2 separate regions of the Homo sapiens genome follow, and region 2 is linked to region 1. Evidence: fine-mapped expression QTL. A gene starts in region 1. The other region holds a variant in brackets. All regions are shown on one strand. Distances are between the middles of the regions. Region 1 holds the start of UGT3A2 (UDP glycosyltransferase family 3 member A2). Region 2 holds the start of UGT3A1 (UDP glycosyltransferase family 3 member A1).

Evidence for each region. PIP is the estimated chance that this variant, and not a neighbour inherited with it, causes the effect. A credible set is the group of variants that fine-mapping cannot tell apart.
Region 2: its variant is the best candidate, but not a certain one, in a credible set for the expression of UGT3A2 in sun-exposed skin (GTEx, PIP 0.62).

What each region holds. Positions count from the first base shown.
Region 1 is chr5:36,060,900-36,072,304 of GRCh38, reverse strand. It overlaps UGT3A2 (UDP glycosyltransferase family 3 member A2), which reads left to right and starts at 5,423. Exons shown (of 7, transcript NM_174914.4): 1 at 5,423-5,609; 2 at 7,955-8,056. The coding sequence starts at 5,516.
Region 2 is chr5:35,987,970-35,999,374 of GRCh38, reverse strand. It overlaps UGT3A1 (UDP glycosyltransferase family 3 member A1), which reads left to right and starts at 7,985. Exons shown (of 7, transcript NM_152404.4): 1 at 7,985-8,228; 2 at 10,824-10,925. The coding sequence starts at 8,135. The variant A/C (reference allele first, on the strand shown) is at 5,973.

The DNA of each region.
Region 1 (11,405 bases):
TAAGCTCCATGAAGGCAGGGACTGACTCATGCACATCCTTACTTTTCAGCGTTAAGTTCAATTTCATGAACATAGGAATCTTTAGAAAATTGAACAGTTTGTAGGCACCCAGCTAGTAAATTTCAGGGCCAGGCTACAACTGTCTGAAAACCAGCCTTTTGTGTCAAGCCTAAGCTGCTGATAGCTGTCATTGAATGCTGCTTCCACCCTTCTGTTTCTGCAAACAGGTACAAGTCTGCAGCCCTGGCCACCAGCATCATCAGGTGCTCCCAAACCCTGAGCCCACCAGTGGCCGGTGGGCTGAATCGACTACATCCTCCAGATGGGGTGGGGACAGGGGGCAGCACACCTCAAGCCTTATGCCTTCCTGCAGCCCTGGAATGAGCAGAACCTGCTCGACGTCTTTGTGTTCTTCCTGGGGCTCACTCTGGGCACTATGTAGCTTTGTGGAAAGCTGCTGGGCATGGCATGGCAGCTGGGTGGCTGCCTGGGGCCAGAAAGGTGGAGGAGATGTGAGACCATGTACAGCCTTGGTGGGGTGCGTTTGTTGGGCAGTGTCACCATTTCTTGGGGGCTCCCCACCAGTTCTGGCAACCCTGTTCTCTACATCATCTCTGCTTGCTAATTTTGCTACAAATTCATCCTTACTAGCTCCTGCCTGTTAGCAGAATTCTTTCCAGTCCTCTTGTCCTCCTTTATTTGCCATCAGCAAGGGCTGTGCTGTGATTCTGTCTCTGAGTGACTTGGACCACTGACCCTTAGATTTCCAGCCTTAAAATCCTCCTTCCTTCTCATGTCCCTCTTAAATCACAGCCTGACCATTCCAGACTCCCTGTCCAGATCTTCTCAGCCTCTTTCACTCACTCATGCCCCTACCATCTATCACGGAATAACATCTGAGAACGATACCTTGCATATTCTTTCAGTTTCTGTTTTGTTCTCCCGCATATTCTCTTCAATGTTCAGGAAGCCTGCCCTGTGCTTGAGAGTACAAGGCTGGACACAGGCTCGTGGGTCTCCACATTGGGTCCCTGTCTCTGGTGCCCACAGTGAGCTCCTTCTTTGCTGAGCAGGCATGGAGACTGTAGGTTTCCAGATTTCCTGAAAAATAAAAGTTTACAGCATTATCTTTCCACAACCTCACTAAACGATTGGCCAAGAGATTTCTGTCCTAATTGCCCAGAATTCTGTCATCTGGCTACTCAAGGCTATCGGGGAATGGGGTAAGTCTGCACTGGCACCTGGCCAGGGTGAAGGCAGCGGGAAGTGGGTGGAGGGTTAGCTAACCTGTGGGGTCTGAAGAAAGAGAAAAGTGGCCAAAAATCCTCCAGAATGCTTGACCTGCTGAACCAGAATATTTTGCTATTTAGCCTTGACCTATATTCATGCACTTAAGCAGCAAGCTATCATGGGCATGCTGATAAAGAAACACTTCTGTTTCCTGGTTACAGTCTCTGGCTGGACCTGAGGAAGCACTGAGTTTGCTTTAATGACTTTCCTTTTTTTTTTTTTTTTTTAATTGAGATGGAGTCTCGCTCTGTTGCCCAGGCTAGAGTGAAAGTGGCACGATCTCAGCTCACTGTAACCTCCCCCTCCCAGGTTCAAGTGATTCTCCTGCCTCAGCCTCCTGAGTAGCTGGGATTACAGGCATCTACCACCACACCTGGCTAATTTTTTTGTATTTTTAGTAGAGATGGGGTTTCATCATGTTGGCCACGCTGGTCTTGAACTCCTGAACTCAGGTGATCTGCCCACCTAGGCCTCCCAAAGTGTTGGGATTACAGGTGTGAGCCACTGCACCCAGCCTTCAGTGACTTTCTAAGTGTGATGGGGACCACAAGGTAGGCAGCCAGAGCAGATGATTTCAATCATGGAGCCCCAGATCCATGTAGATGAGAAGGTGGAATGCAATTGTAGCTGTGGTTCCAAGGACAGCACAGACAGGACTGTGTGTTATCCCTTGAGGGACCATTGCTACAAACCAGTTGGCACTAAACCTTAAGTCGTATAAGGAGGATGAAACCCACTTTATTTGGGTTCTGTAGAAAATTTGCAAATGGACTCTTTTTTCAGTCTGTATGTTTCTGAAGTTCTCTGTGCAAAGGATTTTGTACTAATGAGTAGGAGGTATGTATCCACATCAAAATGTCTCCACATGTACAGGAGAATGGAGACTTTAGGCTTTACTAATAGGTGCTAGAATTAATCTGGGTATTCATGTGTACTGTTCCTTTGTGACGCCTATGACACTCTTTGCTTTTGACTGGCATTAAGGTTTAGAAAATGCATAGGTTGGTATCGGGATAGAGTAAAGAGAGTACATCATAGGGAGTTTCCCCTTCTGGGGCCTCCACAATCTGCATGTAATTAAATGCTGCATGTAATATAAACATAAACAAGAAGATCACATAACACCCACAGAACCCATAGCTTCCCATAAGTAGAAAAGAAGACACCAGATTGTAGCAAAGCTATCTCCTCAACTCCTGCTGCAAGCCTTTATGGAGACCTAATGAGTCTGGAAATATTGTACATAGGAAGCAGGTTCACTGTGAATGGGTTATCAGTTTGTCTGACTCCAGTGAGATGGAGCACCACCCCCGCTCCAAGTTATATGAAGGGAATTAGTGGTCTAAAATACTAAAGTCTTCAAAGAAAGCCAAAAAGTAGAGGAAATGTAACAGAATAAGTGGGAGAAATAGCAACCTGGTAGATTTAAACACATGCATTCGGACTGAAATACAAGATTGACAGACTTGAATAAAAATTTCAAGCTGATTGCTGTTTCAAGAGACACACCTAAAATATGAGGATACAGGAGGGTTGAACATGAAAGGATAGGAAAAGATAGATCTTTTTCCACAATGGAAGATAAAATCTGAATGGTTAGTAGTAATGGCAAACAAAATAGACTTTGGGTGAAAAGTGTTACCAGAGACAAAATAGGTCCTCATTATAAAACGAGGACTAACTGTTTCCCTGGAAGGTATAATACCTGAAACTATAATTGTTCATATATATGCATTTAATGAGTAGCCTTATGTGTATACAGGAAAAATTGCTATAACACCAAGGAAAAATAGAATTATAGTGGAAGAGCTATAAAAACATCTTAATGAAAAATTTCAAACATTCACAAAAGTAGAACTTCTTTATGCTCAGGATTTAGCTCCAGTGATTACTAACTCCTGGCAATTCTCTTTTCTTATCCTGCCACCCACATTTAACCTTGTTTACCCCCACAACCTATTATTTTGAAGCAAATCTGAGAAATCATAAGACAGAATCTGTAAATGTTTCAGAATGTACCTTAAGAGCCAATTTCCTTCCTTCCTTCCTTCCTTCCTTCCTTCCTTCCTTCCTTCCCTCCCTCCCTCCCTCCCTCCCTTCCTCCCTTCCTTCCTCCCTTCTTTTTTGACAAAGTCTCACTATGTTTCCTAAGCTGGAGTGCAGTGCTGCGATCTCGGCTCACTGCAACCTCCATTTCCTGGGTTCAAGCGATTCTCCCACCTCGGCCTCCCGGGTAGCTGGGACCACAGGCACATGCCACCATGCCTGGCTAATTTTTGCATTTTTAGTAGAGACGGGGCTTCACTATATTGGCCAGGATGGCCTTGAACTCCTGACTTCGTGTTCCCCCCACCTCACCTACCAAAGTGCTGGGGTTATAGCATGAACCACTGCACCCAGCCAGAATTTCTTTATAAGATGTTTATAACCACAATTACATAGAACTCTTCTCCAAAGCAACAATAACTAGTTAATATTTTCAAAATTTGGGTTCATATATCTCTGATACTCCTATAATATTTTAGAGTCCATTGGAATCATGCTATGTAAAACGTTAACGAATCTGATACCTGACTCTTCATATCTCTTTCCATTTGATTTTTCTTAGTAACATTTGCCATTAATGTACTATATATTTTATTTCTTAGTGTGTTTAGTATCAGTTTGCCTGGCAGAACAATGCCTGGCATAATAAATAGCTATCAGCCAGGCGTGGTGGCTCATGCCTGTAATCACAGCATTTTGGGAGGCCAAGGCGGGTGGATCATGTGAGGTCAGGAGTTCAAGACCAGCCTGGCCAACATGGTGAAACCCAGTCTCTACTAAAAAATACAAAAATCAGCCGGGTGTGGTGGCAGGCACCTGTAATCCCAGCTACTCGGGAGGCTGAGACAGAAGAATTGCTTAAACTTGGGAGGCAGAGGTTGCAGTAAGCTGAGAGTGCACCACTGCACTCTAGCCTGGGTGACAGAGCGAGACTCTGTCTCAAAAAAAAAAAAAATCTATCAATATAATTGTTGAATAAATAAAAATCTTGGAGTTTGATAACAAATCCTTTATTTTGCTAATGCATTATGAAAAGTACAAGAATAAGACGAACTGGAGCCTTGTGATGTCTGGTAAACCTCGCCCTTCCCACACTTTTCTCTCTCTCTCTCTCTCTCTCTCTCTCTCTCTCTCTCTCTCTCTCTCCTCTTTCTCCACAATAGGCATGGCTAGGTGAGGGATGCACAAATGCATAAGAATGTAATGCTTTAAATTCCAATGAGAAAAAATAACCCCTGTAGACTGAAGAAGGCAGGAATAGAACACGCAGAATTCAAGGACCCACTGCAACCAAGGATTTCTCTGCTTATTTAGAGTTGCACTGAAAGCCTTTCCTAAAGGAAGTCTTAGTTTGAGGATAGAGAGTAAAGGGGACTACCGGACCTGGTGATCCCTGACCTCACTGGGGCTGACATTGCACGGAGGCAGAATTACAAGCTGTCATCAGCATGTGCTCTTGGAAATTATGGAAAGATTCACCAGTCCTATTTCAGGATACTCATTCAGAATGATAGTCTCAGCTTTTGAATTTCAGTCCTCCAGGGACAGACCTGGACTTCCAGAGGTAGGACTCTAGCCTCTTTTCAGGAATGTTACCTTCTAAAGAGACACTAAGAGATAGATTCCAGGGATGGTAGATTGATTTCCCTTGGGGATTCCCTTCCAGGGAGGTCTTGGGCTTGGAACATCAGCTCAAGATTTTAAGCAAGTCTCTCAGGAAATAGATCGCGGGGCTGGCAGTATGAGGTAATAGAGGCAGTTAGAAGGGAACTAGAGTAGGTAAATTCACACAGCCTTTGCAAAAGAGAGGTGGGTCCCATGGAGATAGAGCTTTCATCAGCTCGATTTACTGAGGTCCCTGCCATTCCTCACTCACAGTAAGGATTTTCCAGGCAGGAGGGCTGTGATCACAAGGGCAGAGCAGGGTTAAGTATGGGCTCACCGACCCCTCCTACTGACTGCTGGTAGTTTGGTAGAGCGAGGATAGATTATCCAATGGAGCACGAGGGAGGAGGGGCAGAGGGCAAGAGGGGATGGACAGAAGAGAAGACTGGCAGGATCCTTACTCCTACCTCTACCCACAGCCAGTGCCTTTGGCGCACTGAGGTGCACAGGGTCCCTTAGCCGGGCGCAGGGCGCGCAGCCCAGGCTGAGATCCGCGGCTTCCGTAGAAGTGAGCATGGCTGGGCAGCGAGTGCTTCTTCTAGTGGGCTTCCTTCTCCCTGGGGTCCTGCTCTCAGAGGCTGCCAAAATCCTGACAATATCTACAGTAGGTGAGTGCTTGGCCGGAGAATTCCCAGACAGGCGCGTCCCGGATACTCGCACTGCCAGGGCTCCAGAGAACAGCGCTTGATCAGAGTCATCCACGTGATTTTCCAGGCTGGGCTTGCGGACCCGGCTGGAGGAGGGAGAAGCCCATTCAGCTGTGGGGCAGAGAGGGGCCTCTATTGCTGAGGTGGGGAAGAAAGTTTTGGAGAAAAGAGATTCTCCTTTACTGTCTTCTTCCTGTTCAGGACGCGCCCCCATCCCGCAGGGCTGGGGCCAGAAATTTGAGACTCATCCCAGAGCTTGAGTTCCTGGGCTGCCTTCTCCAGGGCGCAGTGGGACTTTCAGAGGCTCACCTTAAGCTCCGGAGGGTGCGTGTGTGTGGGTGCACAGTAGCTTCCAGTAGAAACAGTGGTGAGCGTTTTCAGGCTCTTGGAGACCAGGGAAAGGCCCTCCTGAGGGCAGCACTGCAAATGTTGTGAAGCTGCATCCGGAGCCAGGGTGGCGCAGGCAGGTATTTCATGGCTGCAATGCCAGTGGAGTGTTTTCCACCAGGGGAAACCTGGAGAACTGCCGAGGGCTGAGGAGAAGATCCAGGTCATTCGCATCTTTTGGAGTATCTTTCCTTTTACCTGTGCCGCTGACCGTTATTTGAGGGATTCATGGGACTGTTAATTCTGCATTTTGGGTCTCAGTTTTACTTCTTTTACTTTTACCCCAAAGGGAATAGAAGATAAAAGAGAAACATATATGAACATAAAGGGATCATCTCAGGATCGAGCTTCCCCAAGACTTTATTTCAACCCATAGTGGGTTCTAATGGATTCCTTTTAGATCATGGAGAATTAGGGCTCGTAGGGCTGGGAAGAACCACAGATCATCTAATTTAGTGCCCATTTTCATTTCCTGAGAGGGCAATTGAAGGATGGGGAGTGAGATGCCTTCCTTAAGAGCACTTGTGGCCTCCCTGATGTCCCATGAGGAATTAACTCAGGGTTTTCTTACTGCAAGACCATGCTCACCACAACTTCCACTCTGAAGCCCTTTTCACTGGGGATTTTCAAAAATCACTGTTTAAGAAACAGTGCAAGTCCATTTGAAGACTTTTTCCCCCTCTTTCTGAGTGTTAGTAGCAGTGAAGCAACAGAGCTTCTTAACTTCTTGAAAGTACACAGCCCTCCTTCCTCAGGCTCCAAGAAGGAGTTGATGTCATTTCTGAGGTGCTAGAATGCTGATTTTTGCCCCAGAAAGCCACCTGACTCCCCAAGATCCACCGCTAACAGCTGTTTCTGTGGGGACCCCTTCTTCCCAGCTCCCTGTTCTTACGTGGATTAAAATGTGAGCAAGACCTGTTGCAGATTTGTACTTTATACGTCCCTTGTTGCTCCAGACTATTCAAGCCTGGGTATAAGTAAACTGAGTCATTCAGAGAGCTGAACACTACTTCTCTACTCCCTTCCACCCCCACCCCGCAGGCTTTTGGTATTTACTATTACATTACCTTCTCTTCTGATCTTCCTTTCTCTGCTGCTGAGAACCTTAGATTCAAGCAAAGGCTGTGTATTAGAACATGTACTGAGAAGACATTGATTTCGTGGAACTTGTACCTCTTTTGAGGATCAAGCTTCTCTTTCCTTAGGATGGATGTTTCTGGAATCAATGATTCCCTAGTCTCTCGTGCAACCAGGATCCAGCAGGCCCACCCCAAGCGCCCCACAGTTGTCCTCAAATGTCTTAATTAGAACTTGATCATTGTGTGGCCTAAATTAAGTACATCCTTTCAAAATACATTGGAATCTTAAGGATTTGGATTCTAAGTAGTGGCCCCTCATTCCTTCTGTTCCAGTGATGATTTCTTGGACCAATCTCTTAAGGTTTCTATCTCCTACAGCAGCAGAAATGTCCAAAGAGCAGGATCCCAGAAACAGCTCTCATTGTTTTTTAGGAACTATTCACACTCATATGTACAACACCATACCTGTATTTCCACCAGTGCCGTGATTTCTTTTGGACTCTGTGTCTCCATAAGGCCTTAGTTAAAATATACATGTACCTCAGGATGAGGAACTCCCATGGCTAAGCACATAGTAGCTCATTACACTGACATGGATACCGTGATTCACAAGAGGCAATCTCTCACGGACCAGAGCCACAGGTAAAAATTTGGGCGGCCATGCTCTGGGTGAGTGGGCTGGGTTTTACCCAGAGGGACATGAGGAGACTGGCAAAACTCATCTTCCTCCAATCACTATCCACTTCTGTTTCCTTACCTTTCCTCTCCTGGATTGATCACTACTGACTTCAGACACTGTATTCTCATCATTCCAGAACTGAAGTTGTGCATTGTTCCTAGGTGGAAGCCATTATCTACTGATGGACCGGGTTTCTCAGATTCTTCAAGATCACGGTCATAATGTCACCATGCTTAACCACAAAAGAGGTCCTTTTATGCCAGGTATCTTTTCTCACTTTTCTTGATTTCTCCTACTCCAAGCAAAGAGCAAAATGCTGTTTGCATAGAAAGGCTTAGCAAAATGTTTTTTAAAAATCTAATTCAATTGGAAGGATGAAAAGCTTGTGTGTGTGTGTATGTAAAGTGCCAAAAAACTTCTTAGTCTCTAATTACCGGGACCTGACGTTCCATACTCCCATATTTTTTTTTCCCCTTACTTGACTTCTACTCCATCCCAAGCAACCATCCACTCATTATTATGGATTATTTTAACAAATACTACTTTATAAGATGGCTTAAAAAATATATTAAACATGGTGGGGCAAGGTGGCTCACACCTGTAATCCCAGCACTTTAGGAGGCTGAGACAGGTGGATCACTTGAACCCAGGAGTTTGAGACCAGCCTGAGCAACATAGGGACACTCTGTCTCTACAAAAAATACAAAAATTAGCTTGACATGGTGGCACCCACTTGTAGTTTCAGCTACTTGGGAGGCTGAGGGTGGAGGATCGCTTGAGCCAGGAGGCAGAAGTTGCAGTGAGCTGGGAATGCACCACTGCACTAGAGCCTGGGCAACAGAGTGAGACTCCACCTCAAAGACTCTCTGTATATAGATAGAACAGAAATATTCAGCCTTATTTAACACTTCTTACATGTAAGAATCACTGTTCTTTTTATAGATTACTTTTCCTCTTTTTATGATATCGGAATTTAAGTAAGCTTTTGCAGGGAGACCCTTATTTATGCAGCTAAGTTAGGAGTCTATGGCTGAGATGGTCTTGCATTCTTGAAAAATAAGTGGCTGCCCACGAGTTTGTGCATAGTGATTTCAGATGTTCTTAATGGAGTCATTGAGTCCAAAGAATTTTAGCCAAAATGAAGCTCATAAATCTTATCAACACTTCTGTTGATCCACAAGGAAACAGAAACCCTGAGAACTTAACAGATTTGCTTGATAACAGAGTTGGGTGGATTTAGGACTTTATGCTCCAAATTGCTCAATATGAAAGTGTTGCTCAGGGAAAAGCCCAAACTCCATCATCATGCAATACACCTGGACATGCACCCCCTGAAGCTATAATTTTAAAAAAGAAAAAAAATCCAAAAGCAAGCATCTTGGAGGGAGAAAATTCTGAGATATTTTCAACCTTTGAAGATAATATCAGGCCTTGTCATTGTTCAGATTTCTAAAACCATTTTTTTTTTTTTGAGACAGAGTCTCGCTCTGTTGGCCAGGCTGGAGTACAGTGGCATGATCTTGGCTCACTGCAACTTCCATCTCCTGGGCTCAAGCAATTCTCCTGCCTCAGCCTCCTGAGTAGCTGACATTACAGGTGTGTACCACCATGCTCGGCTAATTTTTTGTATTTTTAGTAGAGATGGGGTTTCACCATGTTGGCCAGGCTAGTCTCGAACTCCTGACCTCAGGTAATCCTCCTGCCTTGGCCTCCCAAAGTGCTGGGATTACAGGTGTGAACCACTGCATCCAGCCAAAACCATTTTTTAATCTACATTTTCTCATTTAAATTTTGCCAAGTCAATCCTAAGCCAAAAGAACAAAGCTGGAGGCATCACACTACCTGACTTCAAACTATACTACAAGACTACAGTAAACAAAACAGCATGGTACTGGTACCAAAACAGAGATATAGATCAATGGAACAGAACAGAGCCCTCAGAAATAACGCCGCATATCTACAACTATCTGATCTTTGACAAACCTGAGAAAAACAAGCAATGGGGAAAGGATTCCCTATTTAATAAATGGTGCTGGGAAAACTGGCTAGCCATACGTAGAAAGCTGAAACTGGATCCCTTCCTTACACCTTATACAAAAATCAATTCAAGATGGATTAAAGACTTAAACGTTAGACTTAAAACCATTAAAACCCTAGAAGAAAACCTAGGCATTACCATTCAGGACATAGGCATGGGCAAGGACTTCATGTCTAAAACACCAAAAGCAATGGCAACAAAAGCCAAAATTGACAAATGGGATCTAATTAAACTAAAGAGCTTCTGCACAGCAAAAGAAACTACCATCAGAGTGAACAGGCAACCTACAAAATGGGAGAAAATTTTCGCAACCTACTCATCTGACAAAGGGCTAATATCCAGAATCTACAGTGAACTCAAACAAATTTACAAGAAAAAAACAAACAACCCCATCAAAAAGTGGGTGAAGGACATGAACAGACACTTCTCAAAAGAAGACATTTATGCAGCCAAAAAACACATGAAAAAATGCTCATCGTCACTGGCCATCAGAGAAATGCAAATCAAAACCACAATGAGATACCAATCTCACACCAGTTAGAATGGCAATCATTAAAAAGTCAGGAAACAACAGGTGCTGGAGAGGATGTGGAGAAATAGGAACACTTTTACACTGTTGGTGGGACTGTAAACTAGTTCAACCACTGTGGAAGTCAGTGTGGCGATTCATCAGGGATCTAGAACTAGAAATACCATTTGACCCAGCCATCCCATTACTGGGTGTATACCCAAAGGACTATAAATCATGCTGCTATAAAGACACATGCACATGTATGTTTATTGCAGCATTATTCACAATAGCAAAGACTTGGAACCAACCCAAATGTCCAACAATGATAGACTGGATTAAGAAAATGTGGCACATATACACCATGGAATACTATGCAGCCATAAAAAATGATGAGTTCATGTCCTTTGTAGGGACATGGATGAAATTGGAAATCATCATCCTCAGTAAACTATCACAAGAACAAAAAACCAAACACCGCATATTCTCACTTATAGGTGGGAATTGAACAATGAGATCACATGGACACAGGAAGGGGAACATCACACTCTGGGGACTGTTGTGGGGTGGGGGGAGGGGGGAGGGATAGCATTGGGAGATATACCTAATGCTAGATGACGAGTTACTGGGTGCAGTGCACCAGCATGGCACATGTGTACGTATGTAACTAACCTGCACAATGTGCACATGTACCCTAAAACTTAAAGTATAATAATAATAATAATAAAATTTAAAATTTCATTGTGGTAAAATATATATAACATAATCTACCATTTTAGCCATGTTTTTTAATTGAGTCAGAGTCTTCCTCTGTCTCCCAGGTTGGAGTGCAGTGGTGTGATCTTGGCTCACTGCAACCTCCGTTACCTAGGTTCAAGCGATTCTGGTACCTTAGCCTACCAAATAACTGGGACTACAGGTGCGTGCTATTAGGCGTGGGGCACCACGCCTGGCTAATTTTTTTGTATTTTTAGTAGAGACAGGGTTTTGCCATGTTCGCCAGGCCGGTCTTGAACTCCTAATCTCAGGTGATCTGCCTGCCTTGGCCTTCCAAAGTGCTGGGATT
Region 2 (11,405 bases), 73 kb after region 1:
GCATCAGCCAATTGGTTACCCTGATTCTGTGGAGTCTAGTTTTGAGTGACCTGGGATTTTTATAATTGCCAAACGTTTTGGTTTTAGAATAACTCCTAACAGCTCTGACACTTATTGTACATTTTTTTTTTTTTTTTTGAGATGGAGTCTCTCTCTGTGGCCCAGGCTGGAGTGCAGTGGTGTGATCTCGGCTCACTGCAAGCTCCGCCTCCTGGATTCATGCCATTCTCCTGCCTCAGCCTCCCGAGTAGCTGGGAATACAGGCGCCGGCCACCATGCCCGGCTAACTTTTTTGTATTTTTAGTAGAGACGGGGTTTCTCCATGTTAGCCGGGGTGGTCTCAATCTCCTGACCTCCTGATCTGCCTACCTTGGCCTCCGAAAGTGCTGGGATTACAGGCGTGAGCCACCGCGCTCGGCCTATTGTACATTTTTTATGGGTTGCTTTGAGGAGGTTAAATATTCTCTCTCTTTCCATAGCATCCCAAAGTCATGAGCAACCCCAAAATCTGTCAATGTAAATGTTTGAAGCCTTCTCTTTTGCCAGTTGACAAGCTCAAGTCAGTTAGGGCAATCAATTTGGCAACTCCACTTGAGCTGATCTGGCTTAGGGAAGAGGACCGGCTTCAATTACCTCCATAAGGAAACCACAGCATATCCTGCTCTAAAATTTCCATCCTCTCCTCTTAAATAAGATCCACCTGTATACCATTCTATTTTGGCTTTATCCAGTGGCATCTATTGTAGGTCTGCCCTGGGGGTAACAAGTCAGTCAATCATTACAACATAGTCATGAGGGATTTTGTCGAAAAGTCCCAGCAAGAGAGTGGCTGGATTAAGATCACTGTAGTGGGAAATAGTTATATTGGGAGATAATAAAAGCCAAAATTTATAAGAGGCTGACCAGCTGACAGATCTTGAGTATGATGACAGTTTAGAAGGGTATCCAGAGAATGCAGCACAAAAATGGTAAGGGGGTAACCCATAATAATTTCTTCAACAGACTTGTACAGAAGGGCAATTGCTGTGATTGCTGTCATACAAGGAGGCAGCCCTTGAGCCACAGCGTCCAGCTGTTGGCTACAATTGCCAATAGGTCTCTGATAATCACCATGTTTCTGGGTCAGTACTCCAAATGCAGTACCCACAATTTCGTGTGCAAAAAGGGAGAAAGGAAATTTGTAGTTTGGGTTTTCTAAAGCTGAGGCATCAGTTAGAATTTCCTTTATTTGTTGTACAGCTGATTGTCCCTCTGGAGTCCACATGATGGGATCAGGTTGTTCATTTTTTTAGGTAGGCATACAGAGGTTGAGCCATAAGGGAGAAAGTTGGTATCCAGTTTCTGTAATAGCCTGCCAGGCCCCAAAATCCTCTAAGTTGTTTCTTAGTGACAGGCATGGGGAAAGCTGAAATTCCTCTTACACTGTCAGGGTTAATACTCAGTCCTTTGACAGAGATAATATGCCCCTAATACTTAAGTCTCAGTAAATATAGCTGAAGTTTGTCTTTGGACACTTTGTGTCCCTTGATGGCTAACTGTTTGAGTAAATATAGACTATCTTCTTGAGAGGAAGACAGTGTGTCTGAACAAAGGAGAAGATCATGCACATACTGGATGAGTGTTGAGCCCTGGGTAAAAATTAAATCCTCTGGCTGGGTGCTGTGGCTCATGCCTGTAATCCCAGCACTTTGGGAGGCCGAGGTGGGTGGATCACGAGGTCAGGAGTTTGAGACCTGCCTGGCCAACATGGTGAAACCTTGCCTCTACTAAAAATACAAAAGTTAGCCAGGCATAATGGCAGGCGCCTGTAATCCCAGCTACTCTGGAGGCTGAAGTAGGAGAATCACTTGAACCTGGGAGGCGGAGGTTGCAGTGAGGCGAGATCCACCATTGCACTCCAGCTTGGGTGACAGAGTGAGATTCCGTCTCAAAAAAAAAAAAAATTAAATCCTCTAAATCAGCTTTTAATATTTGGGAAAAGTAAGTGAGACTTTCTGTATACTCTTGGGGCATTACTGTCCATGTGTATTGTTGTTCTTTCCAAGTAAAGGCAAATATCCAAATATTGGCTGTCTGGACCTACAGGAATACTAAAGAAGGCACTGCAGAGACCCACAACTGAGAAATACTGGCTGTGTGAGTACAGTTGATAGAAGGGTGTGTGGGTTGGGGACTGCTGGGTGTCTGGGTATTATGACATTGTTTATTGCCCTAGCATCCTGCACAAGACTCCATCTTCTCCTGCTTGGTTTCTTGACAGGGAATATAGGGCTATTGCAGAGGCTTGTGCAGGAAATAATGAGCCCCTTTTTCAGATAATCTTGTGTGGTAGGGACAGTTTCATCTATGGCTCCCTGTCATAGAGGATATTAAGATTGAGTAGGGGTTTCTTTGGGTTTTTCTCTACCTTTATTGGAATGGCTGAGAATATATTCCCTATATCTGTATTTGACTGAGACCATAAGTGGGATGGGACATCCTTTAGCAAGTGCTCTGCTTCTGTTGTTAACAGGAAGATTGGGGAAGCTAAAAGGAGTTTTACTGCTTTCTTCTCTTTATTCCAATGTTCTTTCTTCTCCCCTAATATTTCCTTCTCTGCTCCACTTCACTTTCCTTGTCACAAGATGATGTTTTAACATTATTGGTGCTAAATTGTGGTACATTGTCAGGACAGTTTTTAATTTGGTATTTTTGGTCCCCTGACTCCAATTCTTAAAAAAGTTCACCTTTTGATGAAAAAGAGATATGGGCATTATGGATGTTGAGGAGATCACAGACCAAAAGATTGACAGGGGCCCCAGGGCATATTAGAAATATATGGGACCTACTTAACGTGTCACACTTAGAGCCTGGGTCAAGGGGGTGATTCCATTGAAATGATAAGGTACAAGTTTTGACCTAAAACATGAGATTGTTTTATTAGACACACCCAACATGTTAATTATTTTATTACTCTGAAGAATGAGGTTTCTAAATAAGGTGGGGTTTATCAGAGATATAGTCATGCCTGTGTCAATTAAGGTAGTTGTAAGCTCATGGTTTATTATTATATGAATCTCTCCCAATTTGTTTGTCAGGATAGAATATTTGGAGAAGCGAAACCCCTGCACTTTCTCGGAGCATCCCTAGTCTTCCTGAGTTGCATTCTCCTGCCTTTTCTTTTGTTTCAGCCTAAGGCAGCCTCGCTTAAGGTATCCTCGTCTTTTACAGTAGTAACAGACTGGGAGGCAAGAGTCTTCAGATGGAGAGAGCTTAAAGTCTTTCTGGGGCTGAGAGGTTTGAGAAGTTAATTGCTTTAGCTGTAAATGCATAACCTGGGCAATCTTCTATTTCTCCTTTTTTTTTTTTTTTTGTCATAGCGCAGGATATTTGATCAGCTAAGTTAACTAGTTCATTAGTCTAGTCATGGCCCAATTTGTCATGTGCCATTTTACAAGGGTGGCTAAATCATCATCTAGTCTGTTTAAGAAATTTGCATTTTATAATGTATTATTTTTTATTGTTTTCAAAGCAATCAACTGACATCCTGCAATACTTAAAGTTTTATCAAAATATGTTAAATAATTTAAAACTGATTCATTTGGGTTCTGGCAGCATTGTTGGATTTTATTCCAATTCACAACCCTTTGGAGCACTGAAGGAATAATATTTAACAGAGCAGTCACTCATTCCCGTGACTCTTTATGCCTGTCTTCTGGATTTCGGGGGCTGGTTGTTGGCTCTATTGGGCCTTCAGGGGTTAAATCTGCTATAGGGTCTGACCACTGTGCTTTTTCCAGCCATTCCTTAGCTTTAGCTTCTGAGACCAACATGTAGACTAGCTGATAAAGGTCTGAATGACCTGGGTGATAGGTTCTGATAATGAGCTCATATTTTTGGGCAAAACCAATTGGATCTTTATGGAGGTCAGGAAATTCTTTAACTATGCCTCGTAATTCAGCCTTTGACCAGGGTTGGTAGACAATTGGCAGGGATCCCTTACCTGTTACCGGTTGTTCCTGAAATGGGGCGATCATGAGAGATGTCCCTGTAGGGTCCCTCATTTTCACATCTTCCAGATGAGATGCTGCCATTGGGGCTGTCAGGGAATCATCAGGGAGTGGAGTCTTTGAAGTCAGACTACTGTTGAGTGGTAGACATGGAGGAGAAGGGGGGAACAGATCTGACCTGGGAAGTTCAGAGAGGTCAGGGTAGAGTGAGGGTGGAGGTGGAGGTAGGGGAGATGCCAATAGCTCTTTAAGAGAGATAAAAGATTACAGAGTTCTTGATGAGCATTTCTAAGTTGTTTGTTGGCCTTCAGTCTTCCTCCCTTTTGCTACTCTCCAGATACCATTGAAAGTAGCTCCTCCATTCTGGCTGTTTAGTTTTTGTGCCTGCGTTTTCCATCCTGGTTCACAGTTACACTAATTTGGGCATATCAAAAGATCCCCATTTAGGCCATTGTAACTTAGAATCTGCTTTAGTTATAGTGGTCCACTTGGTTAAATATTTGCATGACTATTTGCCACAATACCCATCCGGAGTTTCTGAAGGGGGAACTTTATGTTCCTCCGGGGTCTTAGAGACCTTATTCCCCATAACTTAGAGTTCCTTTTTGGATTTCACCAAGTTGGGATGTGTGTTGGACCCCAAATGTGCTGCTTGCAGACCTAGCTTTTCAGGGCCATCACAACCTAAACTGGTTCAGTCCACACATGTTGCGGCTACCTGGCATATGTGTCAGGGGCTGAAGGTGTGGGAGGGGTCAGCTCCTTATATGCACCTGTCAGCTGAGATTAGACCCTAAGTATGTTCTCCTGAGGGGGAAACCTATTCAGAGGCACTGAACATCTTAGGGAGTGCTTCTCTCCATCACCCTCATGTGATTCTCAGTCACCTGAGAATGCCACAAAAGGCTGAGAGGAGCAAGGTGCTCCTATTTGTTTTTCAGAGTGGAGAATTCCACCCTCATGAGCTAGAGGGTTTGGAGTTGGTCAAACCTGATAGGGGAAAGAACCGAAACACACACACACACACACACACACACACACACACACACACAAACAAAACAAAACAAAACAAAACTAGAAACAACAAAACCGTTAAGCAAAACTAACAATAATGACACAAATTATATGATTTCTGAGTGCTCTAAGTGTAAGTGGGAAATTAACACCAGCTGGTTGTTGATGCTAATTTTAGTCATTTAAAAGAATTTGTAAGACAGAATCCCAAACCTGTTCTTTACCTAGTGATGGAGGTCCAAGCTGAAGTCTGCTTTCTGCTGATACAAAAGCAGACAGGCTCACCTTCCTTGATGGAAATGAGTGGAAACTCCCACAAAAAAGGAGTTTTTTTTTAAACAGCAAATAAACCTCAGACCGCAAGATCCCTGATACAGAAGCAGATAGGCTCGCCCTCCTTGAAGGAAACAAGTGGAAACTCCCATAAAAAAGGAGCTTTTTGTTTGTTTGTTTGTTTGTTTGTTTAATAACAGCATATAAACCTCAGACTCCTAGATCCCTGAAAAACTTTGGAAGATCAGGGATCCCTGGAGGAAAGAGATCCTGGACTTCAGAAAATTGTCCTATTGGTTTGGGCTATAAGGTGCCCAAGCCGGAACCAAACACGAGAGATGAGAGGCTGCAGGCTGGGTCACTTTCACTCAGGATCCCTCCATGGTTACTAGACGTCAATAGAGAAAAATGATGAGACAAGCCTCAATCATTTTAGGAGATTTATTTGCCAAAGTTAAGGACGCGCACCAGGAGATAGGTCTATGCCTTTCTCCAAAGATGACTTTGAGGGTTCTAAATTTAAAGGGGAGAGGGTGGGATATTGAGAAGTACACAATTTTCATGTAAGGGGTGGGTAGGGAAAAATAGTCATTCATGCCTTTGTCTGGCTCAGTGAATCTGCATTTTTTTTTTTTTGAGACGGAGTCTCGCTCTGTCACCAGGCTTGAGTGCAGTGGCGCGATCTTGGCTCACTGC[A/C]ACCTCCGCCTCCTGGGTTCCAGCGATTCTCCTGCCTCAGCCTCTCGAGTAGCTGGGATTACAGGCACGTGCTACCACGCCCAGCTAATTTTTGTATTTTTAGGAGAGACGGGATTTCACCATGTTGGCCAGGATGGTCTTAATCTCCTGACCTTGTGATCCACCCGCCTTGGCCTCCAAAAGTGCTGGGATTACAGGCGTGAGCCACCGTGCCTGGCCACCTTGCATTTTTTATATAAGATGATATAAAACAAATGGAGCAGAGAAAAAAAATGCAGGGAATCTGCATTTTTACATAAGATAACATAGACAAAATTGGGCAGATATGCATTTATGTCTGGTGGGCTGGGGGTGACTGCACCTGTAAAAATAAGCTATCAATTTGCATTGCCACGGTGAAATTTTAAGAGCTCACTAGGAATTTCCTTGTGGGCAACATATGGGGGAGGTGTGTAGCTTTCCATCTTGTAGCCATCTTATTTAGGAACCAAAAGGGAGACGCAGGTTTGTGTGACCCAGTTCCAAGCTTGACTTTTCCCTTTGGTCAAATGAGTTTTGTGTCCCCAAATTTAATTTCCTTTCATAATAACATAAAATTCTCCAAAGCAACAGTAACTACTTAATATCATCAAGTTTTGTGCTCATTTTTCTCTCATACTCCTATAATTTTTTAGAATTGGTTTAAATCATACTATTTAATATGTTAACACTTCTAATACCTGACCTTTCATATCTCTTTCCTTGTTTGTTTTCTCTTGGCAGCATTTCTCATGAATATATTATGTATTTCATTTCTTATTGTGTTTAGCCTCTGTCTGTCCAGCAAACATATCTGGTGTAATAATTAGCTGTCAGAATAATTGTTGAATAAATGAAGAGCTTGAAGCTTGATAGCAAGTCCTTTATTTTGCTAATGCATTATAAAAGGTATAAGAATAGATGGACTGGAGTCTTGTGAAGCCTGGTAAACCTTCCCCCCTCCACACTTCTCTTTCCCCTTCTCCCTTTCGCTCCCCCAACCCAGTGTGTGTGTGTGTGAGTGTATGTGTGTGTATGTTTGTGCATCTGTCTGTCTGGCTCTCTCTCTTTCTCATTTCCTCCCTCTCCACAATGAACATGTCTAGGTGAAGGATGCACAAATGTAATGCTTTAAATAAAATGTAATGCTTTAAATTCAGATTAAAAATGTAATACCTGTAGACTGAAGGCAAGAATAGTACAAGCAGAATTCAAGGGCCTATTACAGCCGGTAGATATAATCCATTGAAGGATTTCTCTGTCTGTCTAGAATTGCACTGAAAGCCTTTCCGAAAGTCTTGGTTTGAGGATAGAGAGTACAAAGGTGACCATACCTGGTGTAGTGATCCCTGTCTTTCCCAGGGTTGACCCTTCAAGGGGGCAGAATTACAAGCTATTCTCAGTTTGTGCTTTGGGGAGATTATCAAAATATCCCTAGTTCTATTTTATGATACACATTCAGAATCATAGTCTCTGTGTTCGAATTTCAGTCTCCAGGTACAGACCCGGAGTGACTTTCAGAATTAGAACACTACTAGCTCCTCTTCATGAATGTTATCTTCTAAAGAGGCCCTCAGAGAGGGTAGATCAGTTTCCCTTAGGGATTCCCTCTCAGGGACATCTTGAGCTTGGGACACCAGCTAGAGATTTTCAGCAGGTTTCTGGGGAAAATGGGGGCATGGAGATGGCACTATGAGGTAATAGAGGCAGCTGGAAGGGAAGCAGAGTAACATAAGTTCAGACAGCTCCACGAAAGACAGGTGGTTTCCTTGGGGATGGAGCCTTCATTAACGTGATTTACTGAGGCCCCTGTCATTCCTGGCTCTTAGTAAGGATTTTCCAGATAGGACAGCTGTGATTACGCAGGCAGAGAAAGGTTACAGATCAGGTTACCAACCCCCTCCTACTGACTTCAGGTAGTTTGATAGGGTGAGGGCAGATTATCCCATGGAGCATGCACCCAGGGAGGAGGGGCAGCGGGAAAGAGAACGAACAGAAGGGCGAGAGAATTGGCAGGATCCGTCTCCTACCTCTTCCTAGGCCCACAGCCAGTGCCTTTGGAGTACTGAGGCGCGCACAGAGTCCTTAGCCCGGCGCAGGGCGCGCAGCCCAGGCTGAGATCCGCTGCTTCTGTGGAAGTGAGCATGGTTGGGCAGCGGGTGCTGCTTCTAGTGGCCTTCCTTCTTTCTGGGGTCCTGCTCTCAGAGGCTGCCAAAATCCTGACAATATCTACACTGGGTGAGTGCTTGGCCGGAGAATTCCCAGACAGGCGCGTCCCGGATCCCCGCACTGCCAGGGCTCCAGCGAACGGCGATTGATCAGAGTTATCCAGGCGATTTTCCAGGCTGGGCTTGCGGACCTGGCTGGAGGAGGGAGAAGCCCATCTAGCCGTGGGGCAGAGAGGGGCCTCTATTGCTGAGGTGAGGAAGACAGTTTTTGAGAAAAGACACTCTCCTTTCTTCTCTCTTCTTGTTCAGGACGCGCTCCCCGTCCCGCAGGACTGGGGCCAGAAATTTGAGACCAGGACCAGAGCTTGAGTTCCTGGGCTGCCTTCTCTAGAGCGCAGTGGGACTTTCAGAGGCTCACCCTAAGCTCCATGGGGCCGGGAGGTGCACAGTAGCTTCCAGCAGAAACGGTGGTGACCGTTTCCAGCCTCTTGGAGACCAGGGAAAGGCACTCCTGAGGGCAGCACTGCAAATGTTGTGAAGCTGCATATGGAGCCAGGGTGGCGCAGGCAGGTATTTCATGACTGCAATGCCAGCGGAGTGTTTTTCTCCAGGGGAAACCTGGAGAACTGCCCAGGTCTGAGGAGAGAACCCAGGTCATTCGGATCTTTTGGAGCCTCCTTCCTTTTACCTGTGCCGCTGACCGTTTTTAAGGGATTCATGGGACTGTTAATTCTGCATTTTGGGCCTCAGTTTTATTTTATTTTTATTTCAAAGGAAGTAGAAGATGAAAGAGAATTATATATGAGCTCGATCCCAGGATCGATCTTCCCCAAGACTTTATTTTAATCCGTAGTGGGCGCTAAAGGATTCCTTTTAGATCACGGAGAATCAGGGCTCTTAGAGCTGGAAGGAACCACGGATCATCTAATTTAGTGCCCATTTTGATATTCTGAGAGGGCAACTGAGGGACAGGGAAGTGAGATGCCTTTCTTAAGAGCACATGTGGCCTCCTTAATGTCCCATGAAGAATTGTTTAGGGTTTCTTACCCCAAGACCACGCTCACCACAACTTCCGCTCTGATGCCGTTTTCACTAAGGATTTTCTTTCTTTTTTTTTTTTTTTTTGAGACGGAGTCTTGCTCTGTCGCCCAGGCTGAAGTGCAGTGGCGCCATCTCAACTCACTGCAAGCTCCGCCTCCCGGGTTCACGCCATTCTCCTGCCTCAGCCTCCCGAGTAGCTGGGCTGGGACTACAGGCGCCCGCCACCACGCCCAGCTAATTCTTTTGTATTCTTTTAGTAGAGACGGGGTTTAACCGTGTTAGCCAGGATGGTCTCCATCTCCTGACCTCGTGATCCGCCCGCCTCAATCACTAAGAAACTGTGTTAGTTCATTTGAAGTCTTTTCCCCGCTTTCTGAGTGTTAGTAGCAGTGAAGCAACAGAGCTTCTTAACTTCTTGGAAGTACACAGCCCTCCTTCCTCAGACTTCAAGAGGGAGCTGGTGTCGTTTCTGAATCCAGATGCTGGAATCCAGGTCTTTGCCCCAGAAAGCCATTTGAGTCCTTAAGACCCACTATGAGTGGCTGTTTCTGTGAGGACCCCTTCTTCCTGAGTCCCTGTTCTTACATGGATTAAAATGTGAGCAAGACCGTTGCAGATTTGTACTTTATACATCCCTTGTTGCTTTAGACTATTCAAGTCTGAGTATAAGTAGAGTGAGTCATTCAGACAGCTGCGCACTATTTCTCTACTCCCCTTCCACCTCCATCCTCAAACTCTCGGCATTTTTCCATTAATTTCTCTTCTGATCTTTCTTTTTCTGCTGCTGAGAACCTTAGCTTCCAGTGAAGGGTCTGTGTTGGAACATGCACTAAGAGAAGATATTAACGTGATAAAACTTTTACCTCTTTTGAGAACCAAGCTTCTCTTTCCTTAGCATGGTAGGATTTTCCTAGAATCAGTGATTCTTTAGTTTCTGGTGCAACCAGGATCTATAGGCCCACCCCAAGGGCTCCACAGTTGTCCTCAAATATCTTAATTATAAGTTGTACATTGGCCCAAATTGAGTAATTTCCTGCCAAATACATTTTAATCACAAAGATTTGGGCTCTAAGTAGTAGCTTCTGTCCAATGGCAGTTTCTTAGACTCACCTTGTAACTTCTGTATTTCTGTCTCCTACAGTAGCATACTTTTCCAAAATAGGATGAAAGATAGCTCTGACTGATTGCCCATTAGGAACCCTTCATACTAATGTACACACTACTGTGCTGTATTTTCTATCATTGCAGTTATATTTTGGAGACAATATCTCTCTAAGGCCCCAAGTAACATGCAGCACATACCTTAAGATGAGCAACTTTTACAGGCGTAATCACAGAGAAGCTCATTACACTGACATGGAGTCTTTGAGCCACAAGCGGAAATCTTTGATGGAGGATTGCCACAGGTCCCGAACATAGGACAGGAAGGCTTTGGGTGCATGTACTGGGCATTACCCAAAGTGAGATTGAGGAACAGGAAGCGCTTATCTCCATCTTCTCACTGTTCACATTTCCTCTTCCCTATGCTTTTTCTGCTGAATTTCCATTCCCTCCTGCCTACTCCCATATTGTCATCAGAAACTCTATTTTCATCTTTACAAAAGACATTGTGCATTGTTTCTAGGTGGAAGCCATTACCTACTGTTGGACCGGGTGTCTCAGATTCTTCAAGAGCATGGTCATAATGTGACTATGCTTCATCAGAGTGGAAAGTTTTTGATCCCAGGTATCTTTTTTAAAAACTAATTTTTATATTCTTTTACTCTAAGCAAAAAGTGATAATATATTTTTTATACAGCTGCATAGTAAAAACTTCTTTGAATCTAGTCTTATTTCGGGATGAATAAATGTGTGTGTGGATGTGTGTTCATGTTAAGTATTGGAATTCTTATTGGGTCTGTAGACTAAGACTTCACATAACATACTTCTGTATTTTACCACTTACCTGGGTGTCATTCTATTCTAGACAACTCTCCACACATTATTATTAATTATTTTGAGGAATACTACACAATGGTATGGCTTAAAGTTTTTTTGAACAGAAATGTTTAGCCATATTTCAGGCTTTTATTATGTAAGTATAGAAGTTCTTCTTATCCCACAGGTTACTTTCTATTCTTGAGAGACTTGAAATTTATGAAAGATTTCCCAGGGAGCCTCTTAATTATTAACTAAGATGAGAATATATGATTAACACGACCTCATA